Linked DNA regions of Homo sapiens. The protein of the gene in region 1 purifies or fractionates together with the protein of each later gene. This does not show direct contact. Each region holds a gene or a part of one and is shown in the gene's direction. Other genes may lie near its edges.

Evidence for each region. Proteins that work in one complex are often made in the same cells at the same time.
Region 2: the proteins of RIBC2 (region 1) and LRP2 purify together in Homo sapiens (affinity purification with mass spectrometry; 2 studies listed by BioGRID and IntAct, with this or other methods). This does not show direct contact.

What each region holds. Positions count from the first base shown.
Region 1 is NC_000022.11:45,423,693-45,427,192, forward strand, and holds part of RIBC2 (RIB43A-like with coiled-coils protein 2), read left to right. Parts: intron 1-2,255; coding exon 2,256-2,483; intron 2,484-3,500. UniProt on the Homo sapiens protein: Microtubule inner protein (MIP) part of the dynein-decorated doublet microtubules (DMTs) in cilia axoneme, which is required for motile cilia beating.
Region 2 is NC_000002.12:169,352,535-169,356,034, reverse strand, and holds part of LRP2 (low-density lipoprotein receptor-related protein 2 precursor), read left to right. Parts: intron 1-3,500. UniProt on the Homo sapiens protein: Multiligand endocytic receptor. Acts together with CUBN to mediate endocytosis of high-density lipoproteins. Mediates receptor-mediated uptake of polybasic drugs such as aprotinin, aminoglycosides and polymyxin B.

The sequences.
Region 1 (3,500 bases):
CCAACTGCGGGGGCTGGGGAGGACCAAAAGGCAAAGCAAGACACCTGAAGTCCGAGCTCACCACCCAGTGAGCTGCAAAGGTCTTAGAGATCATCCATCCCTGCCCTTCATTTTACAGAGGGCGACCAAAGAGGGGAGGCTGTTTGCTCCAGTCCCCACTGCAAGTGAATGGCAGGATGTGGGGCCCTTGACAATTAGTCCACTGTTGGCTGGTGATCTGCTCATTCATTTATGGAAGCGATGGTGATGATGATGATGATAATTCACTCATTCATTCATCAATTCAACCAATGTTTATTGAGCCCTTCCTGCTGGGCATTGGAGTGGCTTTTGCTAAACCCTATTGTCTCATTCATCAATTTATTCATTCATATATTCTAGAAGATGTTTAATGGGCATCCACAGCCTGCCTGGTTTTCTCAGACCCCCGGCTCCTCACGTGGATGCCACGAGGCAGCACCATTGCAAACACTCCTGCACTGGGAAAAGCCGCCCTCTGGCTTCTGCAGCTCTGCTACTAACTACAACTAGGCTTTTTAATTAACCTGGGATGTTAATCCAAAGCCCAAGCAGGCCGGTCCAGTTCAACAGGAAGGACACACGTGAGGGCCTCCAGTTCTTGGGTCGGGGCTCATTTCGTCAGAGAGGCATTGTGGCATCAGGGTGTGGCACGCAGGCTCTGGAGCCCGACCACACGGGGTGCAGACCAGGCTCTGCCCTGCAGCCTTGGGCAGGCCACCCACTGCGTCCATTTGATCATCTGCAGAATGAGGAAGCGACAACACCCTCCTGTGTCGGTCAGAATGTGCTAACCCTTGCTGGGATAAGAAGCAGCAGTCTCAGTGGCTTAAACAGAAAGTTGATGTTCCATGCATGCTCCCTGCCCGCCATGGACAGGCTGTGAGGCCTGTTCCTTGGCATCCTCACTTTGGAGCCCAGGTCCTGGGATGGAGCGACCGCCAGCCAGAGGATCCCTGCAGGAGGAGGGAAGGAATGTGGCTAGTCCCCGCAGGCTTCCTCCCAGGAGCAGTACTGCCACCTCTGCTCACATTTCTTTTTTCTTTTTTTTTTTTTTTTTTGAGGTGGAGTCTTGTTCTCTTGCCCAGCCTGGAGTGTGTAGTGGCGCGATCTTGGCTCACTACAAGCTCTGCCTCCCGGGTTCACACCATTCTCCTGCCTCAGCCTCCCAAGTAGCTGGGATTACAGGCCTCTACCACCACGCCCAGCTAATTTTTCTATTTTTAGTAAAGATGGGGTTTCACCATGTTGGCCAGGCTGGTCTTGAACTCCTGACCTTGTGATTTGCCCACTTTGGCCTCCCAAAGTAAGAACAGTGTTGAATCACTTGAACCTGGGAGGCAGAGGTTGCAGTGAGCCGAGATTGTGCCACTGCACTCCAGCCTGGGTGACAGAGCGAGACTCCGTCTCAAAAAAACAAACAAACAAACAAACAAAAAAAAACGGGTGTAGGGGCTTGGAAGGATGAGCTGACTTCCTTAGGGAGTACTCAGTGGCAAGTCCGGTATTGAAGTTGGGCCTGTCTAACTACAAAGCTTGTACTGTGTGACTCAATCAAGCTGGCCTCTGGTGAGCACATGTGGGAGGCCGGCTCCTTGCAAACTGCCCTGTCCATGTGTTACTGAGGACAACTGTAAACCCAAGTACATGTCTCCTAAGCCATCTCCTGACTTTACAGAGAAATGACTGCAGCCCAGAGAGGGGAGGTGACTTGGTATAGGCCACATAGCCAGGGAACCCCCAGGGAATCAAACAGAAATGAGACCTGGAATTACTTTGTACTGGGGGCTGCAGCTCAGGACCACTGAAGTGACAGTGCATTTTCTACCACTGTTGTCAATCACTCTGTTGAGCGTTCTTTGCAGCCCACAGATGTCCAAGGGTTGCCAGGGGCATAGAGCCCTGCCTTGGGTGGGACCAGGCCCACGCGGGGTGTCGGCCTAATCCAAGGAGGGAGTTCCCTGCCTTGGTAAGTTGGTGCAAGACCCGGAGCTCTTATGCATACACCCAACAGGTGGTGATCCCCCGAGTCCAGCCCACCCGCCCAGCAGTGCGCAGGCAGCCAGGGGTTCAAGGACCCACCCACATCCGTGCCTGACAAGTCTCCCCTCCACCCGACTCCTGCTGCCCTTAGCATATCCTCCCCTCGAGGGCCCCCAGTGAGATTTGCTGGCCTGGGTGTCAGAATGCCCCTGGGGTCACTCGGACCATCTTCTTTAATGTCTTCACCTGCTTAGGCCATCGAGTCAGTGGAAAGGAAAAAGCAAGAGAAAAAGCAAGAACAAGAGGACAACTTGGCCGAGATCACCAACCTCCTGCGTGGGGACCTGCTCTCCGAGAACCCGCAGCAGGCAGCCAGCTCCTTCGGGCCCCACCGCGTGGTCCCTGACCGCTGGAAGGGCATGACCCAGGAGCAGCTGGAGCAGATCCGCCTAGTCCAGAAGCAGCAAATCCAGGAGAAGCTGGTGACTGCCCCGCCCCTTTTTCCAGAGCCCATAGAGCCAGGCTCTTTGCTCCCACTGCCTTCCAGGCACAAATGTAGTTGTAGCAGGCCTTGTGCTCTGCCCTAGCACCTGCCCTCAAGGAGTTTCCCTTCTAGTCGGTGGGAGACAAGAGCCAGATAGTGTCACACCCGTATGATGTGGCATTAGGAGTAGGAGTGCCAAGATAGAGGACAGTAGAATGGGAAGACATTGAAGCAAAGACCCAAAAGAGGGTAGGGAGGGAGCCATGTGTCTACCTGGGAAAAGGGCGACCGGGCAGGGTGAGCTGCAAGGGCAAAGGCCTTGAGGCAGGACCCTGCCAGACCTGCTCAGAGAAGGGCGTGGAGCCTGGTGACTAGAGTGGAGTGAGGAGAGGGGCAGGTACGGAGGCCTCAGAGGCAGACGGTCGAGGTCCTGGCAGTCCACTGGGGAGGACTTTGGCTTCTTCTGTGACGGAGACGGGGAACTCTGCAGGGTTTTGGACAGAGAAGTGACAGGATCTGACTTAGGTTGAACAGGATCCCCAGCGTGATCCCCCTGGATTGAGGGCAGACACTAGGGGCTGAGGGGGAAGGAAGGAGATCTCCAGGAAGGCCTTTGCAGTGTTCACAGCGAGAGGTGATGCTGGCTGGGACCACGGGGCAGGCAGTGGGGGTGCTGAGCAATGGTCAGATTCTGGATCTGTTTTGAAGGTAGAGTCGACAGGATTGGATGCATGATTGGGTGGGGACGTGTGAAAGAGAGGAGTTAAAGGCGACTCTAGGTCCTGTGGCCTGAGCAACTAGAGGGATGGAATTGGCATTTCCAGAGATGGGGAAGGTGGTGGGAGGAGCAGGTTGGTGGGTGGGGAGGGGTGGAAATCAGAGTTACAATTTTGGATACGTCAAGTGTGCAAAGTCCATTAGATATCTGTATCTATTAGGATTACATTTGCCTGAATGTGGCAGAAAACCACACATAACAGCATCTTAAACAAAATAGAACTTTCTCTCTTGCAAG
Region 2 (3,500 bases), on another chromosome or scaffold:
CTTGTGGTCCCAGCTACTTGGGAGGCTGAGGTGAGATGATCGCTTGAGCCCAGGAGGTCGAGGCTACAGTGAGCTGTGATCATGCCACTGCACTCCAGCCTCAGCGACAGAGTGAGACCCTGTCTCAAAGAAAATAAATACATAGTTGAAAAGATACAGATAATTAGGTTGATCCATTTGAGATTGATTTTTTTTCCTATGCAGAAATAGTCAAATATTGGCAATTTCATTTGGTTCAACCTAATATAAAATGGAGGCTCAAACTATGTCAGGCCAATCTTGTCTTTTTTCCGTCTCCTGGCTCTGAGATGACTCCATTCTTAAACATGTTCTCCTTTGATGTAAAGCGGCTGTCAGTGGCTCTGGAGCCACCTCCTATCAGATCACATCCACTGGGAAAGAAAAAGAGTTTTTATCTTAGCTATTCCCAGCAAAAGTTTCAGTTGCATCTCAGGGTCTCTACTTAGGTCATAAACTCATTGGAGAACCAACCACTGAATCCCGGGTCATGATGTGTTCCCATGGCTTAGGCTTGGGCTGTATACTCAGTCTTTGAGATCATGTATGAAGGGGTGGAGTCCAGAGAGAAATGGGGGTAATTATTGGGAGAATGGTGAACAGAGGCTGGGATGCAAAAATAACAGGTGTTCAGTATACCTTATCAGATAAAATTGACTGACGATGTTATTTTCATTTTGTATGTGAAGACACACTTGAAAAAGCTACAGAAATTTCTCAAGAGCTGGCAGCCCTGGGGTAACTTACAGAATTGAAAGGAATAAAGTATTGGAAACATTAAGAAAAAAGACATGGTGATCTGTGCCCATGTGACCATGTTGCAACTTTAAGTTTAGAAGGAGAACAGGAGAAAGAAGGACTTTTAGAAGGTTTATTTGGATCCTAAAGTTTTCTTATTTGGAGCAGAGCTTTGTGATAGACAGGAAAGTTCTGGAAAATGAGCTGAGCGATCAGACTACAGGATCCCTTAAGTCTGGTGCAGTATTTCATTTTTCTGTGAATCTTAGGCTCCTACTCCTTTTCCAATTTACTTCACTCCAATGTTTATGTTCCTAAGAGTTTGTCTGTTTTCCAAGCACTAGTCCTTTGCTATAAGGATGGGGTAGAGAGAAAGAAGCTTAAAGAGTTTGCAGACAGGTTAAGATGCTTCTGTGGAGACAGAACACATCTTGGTGCACATCTGAGTGTCCTTAGCACTTCATCTATGGACTTCTTTCATAAATGGTAGAACACGTATCCATCACACCTTATTGGATTAATTCAGAAATGCCAGATATATGTACTCTTTGCTGATGGTTACTTTGTTGGTCTCTAATTTAAGTCTTATCTCTAATCACATTAGCTGAGAAAATGGAGACATTATCATTCTAAAAATAAGATGGTTAACTTTTATATTAGGACACTTCTGATTTAGGATAGCACTGAAATTCAGTGCAAAGAAATGTAAGTCTTTCCTAGATAATGACAGATTAGACAATTTGAAGTTTCACTTTTGGTCATTAGCCCTCAGGTCATGCCTGACCTCAAGGTTACTGGAAACAGTGAGAAATGAATGAAAGGAGGAAATGTAATTACCATTCTGTGCATTGAATAGTTGAGCCACTGTTACCATGGATACAATGGCGCATTTATTGTCCAGATCTTGAGATCCAAGTTTGTAAGCAATATCCAAGGTCTCCTTTAAATTTATGTACTATCAGCGAATAACACATGAAGATTCCTGGTAACTTTGAAAATAAGTCTTTCCTCACTGATCTACTGATTCACATTAAGTAAGAGCATGTGTACTTTTGAAGGTGTTGAGGAAACCTGAAAAAGACGAAAAGGAAAGTAGCTACACTTCTGTTATGCTGGACATTCTTGGATTCCTCTATAAAAATATTCTGTCTTATACTGTCAGTGATTTGCTTGTCACTTTGGGCCCAGTTCTTTGGTTTTTATGTCATTAACAAGGAGAAAATTTCCTGAGTAAAGGTTGAAAAAATCAAAATCGTTTATTTTTATTTTTTGAGACAAGGTCTTACTTTATCACCCAGGCCAGAGAGGGTCTCACTTTATCACTCAGGCTGGAGTGCATGGCTCCCTGCAGCCTCAACTTCCCAGGCTGAAGAGATCCTCTCCGCTTAACCCCACAAGAAGCTGGGACTACAGACACATACCAGCACTCACAGTTAATTTTTATATTTTTTGTAGAGATGAGGTTTCTCCATGTTGTTCAGGCTGGCCTCAAACCCCTGAGCTCAAGTGATCCTCCCGCCTCAGCTTCCCAAAGTGCTGGGATTATAGGCGCTAGCCACCATGCCCGGCTGAAATCATTTATTTTGTCAGGAAATTCTTAAAGTTGAATTTAAGAATGAAAGTATTTTATCAGAAATATGGCAATCCTACCCACATTTTAATCTCACTAGAAGGGGGGTGATACATGCTAGCATGTACTTCCACACTGGTTTAATTTTGATGTGGGGAAGGGTGTGGAGAATACTTTTTGTTGCAAGAAACAGAAAACCCAACTCAAAATGGCCTACACAATAAAGGGTATTTCTTGGCTTATGTGAGTAAAAAATACTGAGGCAGAGTGGGGTTCAGGCGAGGTGCAGTCAGGGCTCCAGTTCTCTTTCTTTGTGTTTTCCTTGACCCTACTCCCCCCTAAGTTTCACCTTTGTGTGCGGTCTGGCTTCCCATATGATTCTGATATGGCTGCCAGGGCAAATGGGGCTACGTGTTTCCTTGATCCTATCCAGGGGGAATCCAACTTTGAGAAGGTTTTAGTTATGTTCTCAAAAGTATTATTTCATCACAATAACTTACAGATTGTTAGAATTTCTAAGGACCCTAGACAAAGTCAGCTAGCTCCCCAAACTTGACATATCATCAAAATCACCTGAGGAACTTAAAAAAGTATAGAGATTCTTAAATCAAAACTCACCCTTACTAAAGCAGGGGTATGAAAATCTGTGTTTTTTAAAAATTTTATTTTATTTTACTTTCAGTTCTGGGATACATATGCAGAATGTGCAGGTTTGTTACATAGGTATACATGTGCCATGGTGGTTTGCTGTACCTATCAACCTTTCATCTAGGTTTTAAGGCTCACATGCATTAGGTATTTGTCCTAATGCTCTCCCTTCCCTTGGCCCCCACCCCCTGACAGGCCCCGGTGTGTGATGTTCCCCTCTCTGTGTGTGATGTTCCCCCCCCTGTGACCATGTGTTCTCATTGTTCATCTCCCACTTATGAGTGAGAACATGCGGTGTTTGGTTTTCTGTTCCTATGTTAGTTTGCTGAGAATGATGGCTTCCAGCGTCATTCATGTCCCTGCAAATGACATGAACTCATTCCTTTTTATGGCTGCATATTATTCCATGGTGCATATGTGCCACAACCAACCCAAATGCCCATCAGTGATAGACTAGATAAAGAAAATGTGGAAAATCTGTATTTTTAAAAGTTTCAAGGTGATTCTGAGGGCTGGACCAATTTTT